Homo sapiens: one gene and its partners. The protein of the gene in region 1 interacts with the protein of each later gene in a pairwise test. Each region holds a gene or a part of one and is shown in the gene's direction. Other genes may lie near its edges.

Region 1 (3,500 bases):
TGCCTCAGCCTCCCGAGTAGCTGGGATTACAGGTGCCTGCCACCACGCCTGGCTAATTTTTGTATTTTTAGTAGAGACGGGTTTCACCATGTTGGCCAGGCTGGTATCAAACTCCTGACCCCATCATTCACCTGCCTCGGCCTCCCAAAGTGCTAGGATTACAGGCGTGAGCCACCACACCCGGCCTAGGTTTTTAATAAATGAATGAGTGAATAATTTTATCACACCAAATACTCTATTAAAGAAGTAAAGGCCCTACATTAAAAATTGAAAAAGTCTGCTTCTCCCTTAGGAAGGTTATTTTGTTGTCATATTTATCTTTTGCTGTAATTCCTAAGGGCATAAACTTAATCATTGTTGGCCAGGTGCAGTGGCTCACACCTATAATCCCAGCACTTTGGGAGGCTGAGGTGGGAAGATTGCTTGAGCCTAGGAGTTTGAGAGCAGCCTAGACAATGTAGGAGATGCCATCTCTACAAAACATAAACAGCCAGGTATGGTGGCACATGCCTGTGGTCTCAGCTACTTGGGAGGCTAAGGCGGGAGGATTGCTTGAGCCCGAGAGGTTGAGGCTGCAGTGAGCCATGATTGTGCCACTGTACTCCAGTCTGAGTGTCAGAATGAGACCCTGTCCCTAAAAAACAATAACAACAAAAATTGGCCAGGCACGGTGGCTCACGCCTGTAATCCCAGCACTTTGGGAGGCCGAGGCAGGCAGATCACCTGAGGTGATTTTCACCTGAGGTCAGGAGTTCATGACCAGCCTGGCCAACATGGAGAAACCCTGTCTCTACTAAAAATACAAAATTAACCAGGCATGGTGGCACGCGCCTGTAGTCCCTGCTTCTCGGGAGGCTGAGGCAGGAGAATCACTTGAACCTGGGAGGTGGAGGTTGCACTGAGCCAAGATCACATCATTGCACTCCAGCCTGGGCAAAAAGAATGAAACTCCGTCTCAAAAAAAAAAAAAAATTAGTCACTGCTGGTGGAAGTAGGCTGGCTCGCTGCCACAATCCTGAGTGTGTTGCTGCACCTCCTGCCAGTTAGGAACTGCAGTTGTAGCAGAGAGGGCTTTGGACAAGACAACATAGAACAGGGGTCGCCATACCTCAGGACGTGGGCCAGTACTGGTCCGTGGCCTGTTAGGAACCAGGCCACACAGCAGGAGGTCAACAGCATGTGAGCGAGTGAGCATTTCTGCCCGAGCTCCACCTCCTGTCACATCAGCAGCGGTATCAGATTCTCACAGGAGCGCGAACCCTGTTGTGAACTGAGCATGCCAGGGATCTAGGTTGTGCGCTCCTTATGAGAATCGACTGCCTGATGATCTGAGGTGGGGCATTTTCATCCCAAAACCATCCTCCCACCCCCATCTGTGGAGAAATTGCCTTCCATGAAATCAGTCCTTGGTGCCAAAAAGGCTGGGGACTGCTGGTGTTCTCAAGTCCAGTGTCTTCTACAATTAGATTGTAAGCTCTAGTCTTTTCTAGAGCTCTAGTCTTTTCTCCACCACTTGCTAGCCCTTTGGCATTGTGCAAATTTAATTTTGTTGAGTCTGTTTCTTTTTCTTTTGTTTTATTTATTTATTTATTTACTTATTTTTTGAGGCAGAGTCTCGCTCTGTCACCCAGGCTGGAGTGCGGTGGCACAATCTCGGCTCACTGCAACCTCCACCTCCAGGGTTCAAGCGATTCTCGTGCCTCAGCCTCCCAAGCAGCTGGGATTACAGGCACGCTCCACCACACCTGGCTAATTTTTGTATTTTTGGTAGAGACGGAGTTTCACCATGTTGGCCAGGATGGTCTTTAACTCTGACCTCTGGTGACCCTCCTGCCTCAGCCTCCCAAAGTGCTGGGATAGGTGTGAGCCACCACACCCGGCCCTGAGTCTCAGTTTCTACTTAGCACATCTACTAAAGAAGGGTATGTGGGCGAGATGGTGTCACATAACCCATTGTGAGGGTCAGACCGATGGCACTGGGATGAGGAGGCTCATGGTGAGCAGAAGGTGCAGTGCCCCAGTGAGTCTCTTCTCTTTTTCCACAGTGTAATGTTATTGTTTCCCTTGAAAAGGTCAGATTTTGACCAAAGTCCTTGACTGATTCAGAAGCATGCCCTGACCATTAGCCCTTGAAACCTACAGTTTTTTTTATTTGTAGCCAGGTCTGATGACACCCTAATTTTCTTGATAACTGAGCTGGGGTATTGGCAGGTGGCAACGGCCTGCCTCTCCTGAACTCTTCCATTTGTTGAATCAGGACCAGGTGATGCCATGGACTCCAGCCTATTCCCTAGAAGTAGGACAGAATTCGTTTGAACTCTCAGAATCAAACCATTTCATGCTTTCTCTGTTTCATACCCCTTCTTCCCTTGGCTCTATTTTTTTTCTGGATTTTGCTACAAAATATGTTTCAACTTTATAATTGGAGAGCAAACAGACGTCTGGTATTGTTTATCTCCCTTCTGCCTGTCTTGTCCCATATTGTCAAAAAAAAACACCCAAGTCTCTTTTATTTTAGATGATTGGTTTTTTGCTTTATTCTTAGGATATGGAAGAATCGACCCAAATCCCTCTTTTAACTTTCTGTTATCTCCACACTTGAATGAAAAGCAGTGAATAGCTTGTTTAATTTTTGACTTCATCATATGAATTTCATGAAACAAGGTATCAGAAACAGGAAATTTTAAAGTAGGGCAGAATTGGGTAAACACACATACACACTCTCTGTCTCTCTCTCACACTGAAAACAAGCAGAAAAATATTTTTCTCCCTCCCTTTGTCCAGAGCAACTGTTCATATTCAGGTGAACGACGTGAATGAGTACGCGCCCGTGTTCAAGGAGAAGTCCTACAAAGCCACGGTCATCGAGGGGAAGCAGTACGACAGCATTTTGAGGGTGGAGGCCGTGGATGCCGACTGCTCCCCTCAGTTCAGCCAGATTTGCAGCTACGAAATCATCACTCCAGACGTGCCCTTTACTGTTGACAAAGATGGTAAGAATCGAGGAGCCGGCTTTTCAGCTAGGTAGACAGTCCCTGCTAACCCCACTGACTTTACACCCCAGCTTCTGTGCTTCGTCAGAACTTCATGGAACTCACAAGTTGGAGACCTAACCTGGTGTGTGTTTGCTTTTAATTGTAAAAACATTTAAGTTTCTACTTTGTTCCCTGACAACTTCTTCTCTGGAACCTGTAAGTCCTGTGTTCTCTTGTGGGGCTCACCTCTTTTTTGCTTTCCCACCAAAATCAAATAAAAATCCTCCTACCTGACATGGCTTTGTTTTTTTAATCTTCTTAACTTTCAGTCCACATGCATCTGAATGAGACTGACCTTTACATTTAGTTTGTCTCATTTTCTGTTCTCCATTAAGTTTTTTGTTTTTGTTTTTGTGGTTTTTTTTTGAGACAGTTTCTCACTCTGTTCCCCAGGCTGGAGTACAGTGGTGCGATCTCAGCTCACTGCAACCTCTGCCTCCCGGGTTCAAGTGATTCTCCTACCTT
Region 2 (3,500 bases), on another chromosome or scaffold:
GTCGGAGCCCCCAGGATGGCCTGGAGGGATGGAAGAATGGGCCTAGTGCAGAGCCAGAGGCCTGGCTTCACCTCTAGGCCTTGCCACAGACATGCCTGCCACCTTGGGCAAGTTACATCTCCTGTGCGGGACCCAGTTCCCTCATCGGTGAAGTGGGCTAACAGTACCTCCTCTGTAGGACTCTTGTGAGATTAGAAGGGCCATCAGTAAAGCTTACAGCCCTCCGTAGGACTCCCTATGTTGGCATTAGTGTCATGCAAATCATTAGAAATCCATATTGAAGTCTGCAACACTCAGAGAGGACTTGGGATCCCCGATGCCATTCCCTGCTCCACCCCTTCCTAGCTGTGAGGCCTTCAGCAGGCCTGAGATTCTCTTCAGGGTCCCTGAGAGCTGAATGAGACTCATCACCTGGAAGAACTTTCTTATTTCTTAGCCAGAAGGGCTCTGTGGGCGTGGTTATTCTAGGGACCCTGGAACAAGGGCAGGGCCACTCTGAGAGCCTCTGGGTGTCTTTGGCAATTGCACAGGCTCTCAGAGGCTGAGCAAGCAGGCCAGGGACCATTGGTCATTTGCCCTTTGGTCTCAGGAGTGGACCACCTGTCGTCCCACCTCTGCTTCCAGGAGTGAAGGGAATATTCTGTGGGGCTCCACCTTGCCAATGCCACCCTGCAACCTTGTCCTGGGGCTGTGTCAGCCACATCTGGAATGGGGGACAGCCGCCCTTTAGAGGCCTCCGCCTGCATTTAGAAAAGGGCCCCCTGGCTCTGGGGCTAGGCTGGAGGTGGTGGTGGGGACAGCGGTAATGCTGCCACCCTCCACCAGGGATCGGGCCAGCCAAGCCAGGCGGAGGGGCTGGTCCTGGGGCACAGACCACAGGCACAGGTTGCAAGGGGGAAGACTCCACCTTCCTGCCCAGAGGTGCCCTCTACAAACCCAGGAGTGGGCCCGACAAGCCGCAAGATTAGGACCTGAGCTGGTATCTTGATTTGAGTGCCGAGGTCTGTCGTATCCTGCCCCACGGCCCCCAACACCAACCTGCATTTTTCTCCCCATGCTCCGCCCCTCTAGCTGGTGAACATCGGCTCCTCCTACAACTACGGCAGCGAGGACCAGGCAGAGTTCCTGTGTGTGGTGTCCAAGGAGCTCCACAGCACCCCAAACGGGCTGAGCTCAGAGTCCAGCCGCAAAACCAAGGTGAGCCCACCCGCCTCAGCCTGTGTCCGGAGAAGTCTCCTGTCTCCCTCCACCCTCCCCGCCTGTCCCGCCCCTGCGCCTGCACCATCCCTCCACCTCTCTCCCGCCACCGCCCATGCACAACCCCATGCTCACAGCCACCGCCATCCATCCCATGCCACCTGCCGTTACCCAGGCCCAGGCTGGGAGCAGTGAAATGAGAGCATCCCCAGGGTGCAGCCGGCGTGGACTCAGAGGCTACATGAAGGGGGCCGCTTAGTGGCCACTGGGCACTGTGGCATGGACTAGGGGTCAGGGCACAGTGTGGCACTCTCTGTGTGACTTAGGACAGGGCTTGTCCTCTCCCAGCACCTTTGCTGCACTCTCTGAAGTGAGAGGGGAGGATCACATACTCTTTGTAGTGCCTTGGAGCCTGGAACTTCTGGGATCCCAAATGGCCGTTTATTCCCCAGGGACAGGTGCATGTCCCCAGCTGGCCTGAGCCAGGATGAGGAAGCCACCGCTGTAAATCCTGCCCCTTTCCCAGGCCCCCTCCTTGGCTGCTCTGCAGGATAGGGGCAGCCTGGTGGCTGCCAGTCCTGTGTGTCCGCCTGGCCTGTTGAGGCAGCCTCCTGAGAGCACCCTGGCAGCATCCACTGTACCACTGTGGGGAGAGGGCTGAGCGGGGGTCCTGCCATCCTGGACCCAGTGCTGTGGGAAGTCCCAAGGGCCTTCGCAGAGCCACAGAGCAGGCGTGAACCAGGCTGGGAAGAAGGCAGGCTGCTCCTCCTGGGGCCCAACCCCACACAGTGGAGGCTTACCTCTGGCTTCCTGTCTATCTGTCTGCCTCCCTGTCCTGCTGTGACGCACCCTGCCTGCCCACCCACCCCCACCACTGCCAGGGCTGACGCTGCCCTGCAAGGGTGCAGAGCGAGACTGCTCCTTCTGCCTCTTTGGGCCAAAGCCCCTGGACCTGGGGTGTCAGAGACTGGCTGGCATCCCAGATCTGGGTGGTGTCTGCCCTGGGGCTTCCTTGGCCACATTTCTACTGAGGAGCAGTCTTTCCAAACAAGGCCTTCCCAGGCACCCCTCAGGGATACCCCAGTCCCACACCCTCCCTGTTCTGCTTCATCCCCTCCCTCCAGCCTCGCTCTATGTAACAGCAGCCAGGCTGACCCCGGAGCATGCCCACAGCATCCCATCCTCAGCTGCTTTCCCCAGGCCCTCCCCAAGCTGCCCAGGGGACCGGAGAAGATGCCCCCAGCTTCTGTGGCTGGAGCCCTCCCCTCTCCTGAGGTCCCTTTCACCTTGCCTGAGACCGGGTCTTTGGGGATAGCCAGCAGGCCCTGGCCCCTCTGTTAGTGTCTCCACTCTTTCTTCCCTGGGTCCGCCGGCTGGTTCACAGAGCACGGAGGAGCAGCTGGAGGAGCAGCAGCAGCAGGAGGAGGAGGTGGAGGAGGTGGAGGTGGAACAGGTGCAGGTGGAGGCAGATGCACAGGAGAAAGGTGCAGCCAACCCCCAGGAGGATGATTGCTAAGCAAAGCCGGAGCCTCCCGCCCACTCCTTGCTGGAGCCAGCTGCAGAACCGGGGGCCCCGGGGCTGCTGGGGGGGCACCAGGGTTAGCTCAGCCACTTGCCTGGCGCCTCACCCGCATAACCATCCCTTCTCTCACTTTCTCTTTGCAGCCCAGTCATCTCAGGATCCCGCTAACCTTTTCTCCCTCCCACCACTGCCTCCTCCTCCGCTTCCCGCTGGAGGTCCTGCCTCATCTTCATCCACCTCTTCTTCCTCCTGGATCTCATCTGCACCCTGCCTCTTCCCTCTCTGCCCCTGTCCGGGTTTTCTCTCTGCCTGCTCACGCCTCCATCCCGGGTCTGCCCTGGTCCCAGCCTCCCGTGCCCTCCACCCAGGCCCCCTGGCCCTGCATCCCAGAGCGTCCTGCCTGCCGCCTCCTGCGCCCCTTCTGGTACCTCCTGCCTCCCAGCCTGGGGAGGAGGGGCGCAGCTGCACCTCCTCTGTGCCCACTAACCCTGCCGGGCACCTCTGAGACTGGGCCCTGGCTGCAGGCCCTGCCCCCCCTCCTCTCCTCCCGGCCTCCTCCTCACGTTTCCTCCTTGCAGGTTCCCGTCCGCACCCTCTCAGACCTGAGGCTGAGCTTGCAGTGAGGGCTTCTCCTCGGCCCCTCGCCCGCCCCCAGAGCTGCCATCCCTGGTTTGTAGCTTGGCGGTGCTGGAGGGAGGGGTGGAGCGAGGAGGGTGCTCATCTCTTGATCCTTGGACTTGAGCCGAGCTTTCGGCTGATTATCTCCACCCACCAAAGTTTC
Region 3 (3,500 bases), on another chromosome or scaffold:
TCTTAGTTATTCCAGTATCATTATAGTACATTGAGACCACTAGCAGGGAAATCCATGGGGATTGTCTTAAACATATTGAAGTAGGATTACTAATGCACATGTAATGCTGGTTAGATAAAATTCCAGGCCATTTGTACATTCTAAACTCTTAGTTGACTTAGATGAGAATGGATTCTAAAATCTGGTTTTTCAGATTGAATCCTAATGTAAGTTAAATTGGTATTCTGTTGTTTTTGTTTTGTTTTTTGAGACAGGATCTCACTCTTGTCACCCAGGCTGAAGTGCAGTGGCGTGATCTTGGCTCACTGCAACCTCTGCCTCCTGGGCTCAGGCGAGATCCTCCTGCTTCAGCCTCCTGTGTAGCTGGGACTACAGGCACAACACAGCACCATGTCTGGCTAATTTTTGTATTTTTGTAGAGATAGGGTTTCTCCATGTTTCCCAGGCTGGTCTGAAACTCTCAAGCGACTGGCTCACCTCGGCCTCCCAGAGTGCTGGGATTACGGGCGTGAACCACTGTGGGTATTCCATTTTAAAAATCAGAAGACATAAAGAACTGTTGCCTCCATGTTATACAGCGAGTTTTTAAATGATAAATTAAAGCAGGTTCCTTGCACTTAATGTATATTGAATGTGCAATTGCCAAGCAAGAAAGAATATCTTGTGTGTAATATTGTACGGCAAAGCAGTGGAATGTTTTCTGATAGCTGATGTTTTTTAAAAACTTAAGTTCCTTGTCTTTCTTTTTCTCTTAATCAGGATTCCGGAGTTTGAATCCACCTTTGACAATTGTCCGAAAGACGTTTGAATCAACAGAAAACCCAGATGACTTCTTGCCCTCTGTAATGACTTGTGTGAACTATCTTAAGTTGCCGGACTATTCAAGCATTGAGATAATGCGTGAAAAACTGTTGATAGCAGCAAGAGAAGGGCAGCAGTCGTTCCATCTTTCCTGATCATAGCAAGAAATGCAGTGTCTGCCTGTTACAGCAAAAGAAACAAATCATGATTTCTTTTCTAATGTTATCACCTGAGTCAAGGAAACATGTTACGCCTTCTTGTTGTAGGAAAAACGGCTTGCAGATTATAAAGAGACATTTGGTTGATATTCATTAATGGCCCCATGGACTTAAAGTGATCAGGCCCTAAAACGTTGTTGTGATGAGGTTTCTTTAGCAAGTTCTTGTTTAAATTATCATTTATTTGATGAGTGAAGTTTTTAACATGCTTTGCTGTGTGAAATTTAAAAAAGGGATGTTTTTCCAGGCTGGAACAATAAATGTGGCTGTGCAGTTTAATTCTGGGCTGTGTGTATCCATCTAGCTAAGTCTGCAGTTTTCTTTCCTCCAAAGACAACTCTTGTACATAAGTACAGAAATTTAAGCTCACATGTATTTGACAAATATAGTTTAGTAGACTAGCTCTATGTGCTTTTCACTTTCCTCTGATTTTCTCTCCCTGATTCATTATTATCTGTGCAGCTCACAGTTTTTTTTTTGTATACAACTCACAGTTCTCAAATTTTCGTTACCCATGGGCTTCTGTTGTCCCATGTTCTCTCCAGTTAAGATCTAATTTAAAATTCATTGGATTGAAATTTATTGAATATAATTCAGCTTTTGTAACTAGGTAGACTTTTCTTATAGTTTAGTTTTAATATAGTTTAGGGTATTACTGGCTTTTTCCCAGGTGACACACTAAGGACTGTTTACATGGCAATTCCAGCAGCAACAGCCTCTGGAATGAGACAAGGAAAGCTCATTTGTTTCTTTTATGAAGGTTAAGAAGTCTACAGCTTGGGCTGGCCGGTATTTATTATTCTGTGGCCAGAGGATTTTAAATTAATGTAAATTTTTTAAACAAAATAAGCAGTTTTCCTTCCCTGTTGGAGTAAAAAAATTTTTTTCCCTTTGTTGTTTTACGTTTTTGTTCATAGTCTTCTTTATTCCACGCTCCTCTTCCCCTTCTCCCAGTGCTGACTTGGGACAAAACAGTTCAGCCTTTGTCTCGACGCAGATAAAAGCACCTGTAAGCAATGCTGTCCAGTCATTTTATGTGCTGATTTCTCAAATCTGCAATAATCCATCAGGTTAATGTTTTTACCTGAAAATAAAGAAAGTTTGCTTCACCTTTTTGTTTATAGTTTTGTGCTGTATGCATAACTTTCAATTGTATAGATGTATTTCAATGCAAGGAAATCCACATATCTCCATGATTCGGGTCATGGCTGATTTTGCTATTCAAACAATTTATAATAGCAACTTGAAGAAACTAAAATGTGAAGAGAAAATGGGAGGAGATTCCTTCCTAAGGTCCAAAACTAGGCCTGTGGCATAAATTTGAAGGAATTTTCCATAATTCATCTCCTTGAAAATAAGAGATGAGCTAGTTTTTTTTTTTAATTGAACTTTGAGAAATCAATTTTTTTGACTGTTCTGTAAGTTTTAATTAATTGACACAAAAGCCCTTTTCCCTATCCCACCACCCAAAAGAAACTCAGTGGCTTGTTTGACATAGATTGCTGTGTCAATTTACACTTAAATGGCCTTATATGGAAATGTCCCCTCCTGAGAGTTCACTTGGGCAGTGACCCCATTAAGTGGAAGGGAACTGTCAGAGGAGTTGGGGGCAGAGAATTCTCTCCCTGTCTCTGCAGAGACTGACAAGTGAATGGCTTTTCCCTGAAATCCAAGAAGGGAATTGTGTTTCTGCAGTTTTCACCACTAACAGCACAGTTGCTGAGCAGCTTCATCAAGTGAAGTTAAAGACTGAAACAATTTGTTTTCAACTGTTCTGATATCTTCCTGCAAATTAAGCACAAGGATTTTTGTGTGAACATAGCATTTTGTTCCTGATTTTTAAAGGGTTCTGTTAAAATTTAGACATGTATAAACAAAATAATGTTTCATCTGTACTTGACATTTTATCCATGTTGCAGCCCTGGCAAATTTGGCCTCATTGATTCCAGCATCTAATAAGTATATATGATGATTTTGACTCAAACTCTAAAGTCTTGAGTGTTTCAAAGTCAGTCGTTACCTGTTTAAAAGCCTCAGCCTTTAGCTTATTCCTCCTTCAATACACGGGACCTTTGGTTAATTTGGGGCAGGAAAACTCTTAAAGTAATCTCTCTTGGCAGAGGCCTTATTGCACCAGAGGGAAAAAGTATATACTTCATTTGCTGTTACTCCAGTTATGCCTTAAATTCATTTGCTTGGTAATCCTATCAACGAGCACTAACTTCTTAGTATACTTTAAACACTTAGTTGGGTAACAACTGAGATTTTGTTGTCCTTTATTTTTTGCTGAGATGGAGTCAGTCAGATGTTAGTCATAGCTAACACCGAATTTGTGTTGTCATTTAGACAGTTACTGATTCGATCTGCTTTATATATGAGAACGTATTTTTAACTATTCCAAGAAGGAAGAGGTAGCTAAATGTAATCCCCTCTTCCTATCCCCCCAGAAAACTGAACTGTAAGTTCTAGGTAGACTAATTG
Region 4 (3,500 bases), on another chromosome or scaffold:
ATTACATGCATTTGTAAAGCACTTAGTCACAGTGCTTATATAAATGAAAGAGTGATTCTTGGATAGCTTCCAGCCTTGTTGGAATCACATAGCAGGGCAAACTTTTTCTCTAAAGGAGTAGACAATAAATATTTTAGGATTTGCCAGCCACTTCCTTATAGTTATTTCCATGTTAACATGTTCCATGTTAAGGACTTGACAGTTATACCATTTAGACTTGTTAATTTTTTTCTTAATGATAGTTTCTTAATTTTATGGTGAATCATCTAAACCAGTTTTGGAACTAAGTCCTGTTGGAGCTATATAATTTTAAACTAATTCAAGTTTCCATTATACTAGGAATACCTAGAACTAACATGATTGCTCTTGTCCTTCCCAATGGATGATGGTAATACTGATAAGGACTCTTGGTAACCCCGAAGACGGGGTGAATCCATATCCCTTTATTATACACGTAAGCTTTAGTTTTGTAAGTATGGTCAAAATTATCAGATTCCATGTTACGTTAATATCCTTGCTAGGAAGTAAACTGTATAAGGTAAATTGTTGGTTAGAAAACATTTACTTTTCTCTTTCAGTTGAGGCTAAGACGTCTGAAGCCAGGCCCTTTAATGATTCTACTCATGCTGAGCCCTTGAATGATTCTACTCACATTTCTTTGCAAGAAGAAAACCAGTCTTCTGTCAGTCATTGTGTCCCTGATGTTTCTACAATTACTGAAGAAGGCTTATTTAGCCAAAAGAGTTTCCTTGTTTTGGGTTTTAGTAATGAAAATGAATCTAACATCGCAAACATCATAAAAGAAAATGCTGGGAAAATCATGTCCCTTCTGAGCAGAACTGTTGCGGATTATGCTGTGGTTCCTCTGCTGGGGTGTGAAGTGGAAGCCACTGTGGGAGAAGTTGTTACAAATACATGGCTGGTAAGACAACACTAGTGGTTGAAATAAAGTATCGAAGGATATCTGAATGCCAAGAAGGTTAATGTTTATTTCTTAGACAGTTCAGTTACAGTAAATCAATGCTTGGACTTGAACACTCTTGATTTTGCTTTTAGCAAGGGAAATTCAAAATTAAATGTGCAAGCTTCTTGGCCTAATCCCGATACAGTAGAGATTACTGTTTCCCAGGGCCACAGCAGCAACATTCCTTCTTAGGAGGTCACTCTAGGGTCATCTCATACTATTTGTCTTGTTTTCTCATAACCAAAGCATCACTGGTAATTTCACTGTTGATTTTTTTTTTTTTAACATTCCAAGAATTATGAGAAAAATAGTATAAACTAATACATTAGAAGGAATGAAATTTAAAGCAACATTCAGTAACTCTAATAATAGATCTTACCGATTTTAATAGCCTAATGTAATTAGTCGATGTATGTATATGTGTGTATGTATATATATACTCTAACATTATGATATGAAATGTATTGAGAATGAGCATACACAAGTTTGTATTAAAGTAAAATTTCTTCTTATCAAAACTAAATTATTGCTTCTGTACCTGAACCAGTGTTAACCACTGGTTGCTTATTTCAGGTTGGCTTTACTATTTCTTTTGTTTTTAAAAGGTTACTTGCATAGACTATCAGACTTTGTTTGATCCAAAGTCGAATCCTCTCTTCACACCAGTTCCAGTAATGACAGGAATGACTCCTTTAGAGGATTGTGTTATTTCATTTAGCCAGTGTGCTGGAGCAGAAAAAGAGTCTTTAACATTCCTAGCAAACCTCCTTGGAGCAAGGTATGTAATATTTTTAATGCACCTGTTGTATTGGTGTATCTTTTTATTTATTTTGACTTCTTGGAGAGCATTCAAATTAGAATTTGGTTGGGTGTCTTTATTATATTTATGAGTGTTATGTGGTTCCTTCTCCACTCCCACTGCTTCACTTGACTAGCCTTAAAAAAAAAAAGTGCCTCTGTTGTCCAAAGATGAAAACTTAGGTATCATTAGAGGTAATAACTGCAGTGGGTCCAAACACATGAAATAGTGTTTAAGTTGTGACTTCATAATGACACCAAATAAAGTAAGGTAATTGGTCATCTTTGAAAGATGCTAGAGAACCAGTCCATTACTTTGAAAGCTGACAAAAGGAAAGGATCAAGGAATTACCTTGCATTTCCTGTGCAGTTTGCATCAGGGTAACATGATAGTGGATACGACAAAGTTTCCCTTTATAAAGATGTTTCAACAAACAAATAAATAAATAAGGAATGATAAGACTGTAACCCCTAATGAATGAAAGAATCTAGGCATTGAACATCAATAGTCGATCACACAATAAAGGGACAAGACATGATGTGCCTTCTTACAAAGAATACACCACCACTTTGAAGTAGTCTTGCCAAAATAATCAAACCTCAATCTGATGATGCTTCTAGATCCAATTCCCAATTTATAGGAAATGCAAACAGCAGAATAACACGTTAAACTATACTACAGTGATATAATCAGCAAGACCCAGACTTTAGTACAACTCTGGCATAAATGATCCAGTGTCTTCAATGAATATATATTAAGGGCATGGAAAAGAAGGTAGGAACCTATAAGCTAAAAGACTTGAAAAAGCAAAAGCCTAAATGTAGTCTTTAAAGTTGCCATTATTTGATTATAGAAAAGTAAAGAAGTGATTACTATAAGTATCCAAATAGGCCAAGCACAGTGGCTCACACCTGTAATCCCAGCACTCGGGAGGCTAAAAGATTGCTTGAGCTCAGGAGTTCAAGACCAGCCTGTACAACATAGTGAGACCTCGTCTCTATTTAAAAAATAATAAAAAAAAATGAGCCAGGCATGGTGGCATGTGCCTATGGTCCCAGCTACTCGGGAGGCTAAGGCAGGAGGATTACTTGAGCCCAGGAGACCAGGGCTGCAGTGAGCTATGATCACACAACTATACTCCAGCCAGGGCAACAAAATGAGATCCTGTCTCCAAAAAAAAGCCCAAATAGTGGCTACTATTAAGAAGGGAGGGAAGGGGGTTTATATGGCATGTTGGAGAGGTTCTGGGGTAGTTAGCAAGATTCTGTCTTCTGACCTGGGTGGTGGACTTAAGGGTTTCACCTTATAATAATTCGTATAGCTGTATATTTCTTTTTTTGCTGTTTTCTGTTTGAATTATATGAAATAATAAAATTCTTTTAAAACTGAAATTGTGGAAGATAATAACATACATGATGACAGACTCCACTGGATACAGCTAAAGCTGTACTCAGCAGGAAAGTCATGCAAATTCTGAAATAGAATAATTGGGACTAGCCCTAACAGTTATTAAAATATATTTTGTGGCCAGGTCTGGTGGTTCATGCCTGTAATCCTAGCACTTTGAGAGGCCGTGGCAGGAGGCCAAGTTCAACACCAGCCTGGACAATATACTGAGACCCTGTCTTTACAAAAAATTTTAAAAATGAGCCAGGCAATGTAGCATAAATCTGTAGTCTCAGTTATTTGGGAGGCTGAGGTGGGAGGATTGTTTGAGCCTGGGAGGTCAAGGCTGCA

The links. Proteins that work in one complex are often made in the same cells at the same time.
Region 2: the proteins of CLSTN1 (region 1) and KCTD17 interact in binary tests that used the Homo sapiens proteins (3 or more experiments, as listed by UniProt).
Region 3: the proteins of CLSTN1 (region 1) and TRIP12 interact in a two-hybrid assay, tested with the Homo sapiens proteins (one study listed by BioGRID and IntAct).
Region 4: the proteins of CLSTN1 (region 1) and TOPBP1 interact in a two-hybrid assay, tested with the Homo sapiens proteins (one large-scale study listed by IntAct).

Annotation. Positions count from the first base shown.
Region 1 is NC_000001.11:9,750,966-9,754,465, reverse strand, and holds part of CLSTN1 (calsyntenin-1 isoform 1 precursor), read left to right. Parts: intron 1-2,784; coding exon 2,785-2,993; intron 2,994-3,500. UniProt on the Homo sapiens protein: Postsynaptic adhesion molecule that binds to presynaptic neurexins to mediate both excitatory and inhibitory synapse formation.
Region 2 is NC_000022.11:37,058,242-37,061,741, forward strand, and holds part of KCTD17 (BTB/POZ domain-containing protein KCTD17), read left to right. Parts: intron 1-1,071; coding exon 1,072-1,197; intron 1,198-2,581; coding exon 2,582-2,681; intron 2,682-2,862; coding exon 2,863-2,934; coding exon of another isoform or gene 2,935-3,297; coding exon 3,298-3,388; coding exon of another isoform or gene 3,389-3,500. UniProt on the Homo sapiens protein: Substrate-adapter for CUL3-RING ubiquitin ligase complexes which mediates the ubiquitination and subsequent proteasomal degradation of TCHP, a protein involved in ciliogenesis down-regulation.
Region 3 is NC_000002.12:229,765,010-229,768,509, reverse strand, and holds part of TRIP12 (E3 ubiquitin-protein ligase TRIP12), read left to right. Parts: intron 1-759; coding exon 760-956; 3' UTR 957-3,500. UniProt on the Homo sapiens protein: E3 ubiquitin-protein ligase involved in ubiquitin fusion degradation (UFD) pathway and regulation of DNA repair.
Region 4 is NC_000003.12:133,641,442-133,644,941, reverse strand, and holds part of TOPBP1 (DNA topoisomerase 2-binding protein 1), read left to right. Parts: intron 1-578; coding exon 579-922; intron 923-1,569; coding exon 1,570-1,742; intron 1,743-3,500. UniProt on the Homo sapiens protein: Scaffold protein that acts as a key protein-protein adapter in DNA replication and DNA repair. Composed of multiple BRCT domains, which specifically recognize and bind phosphorylated proteins, bringing proteins together into functional combinations.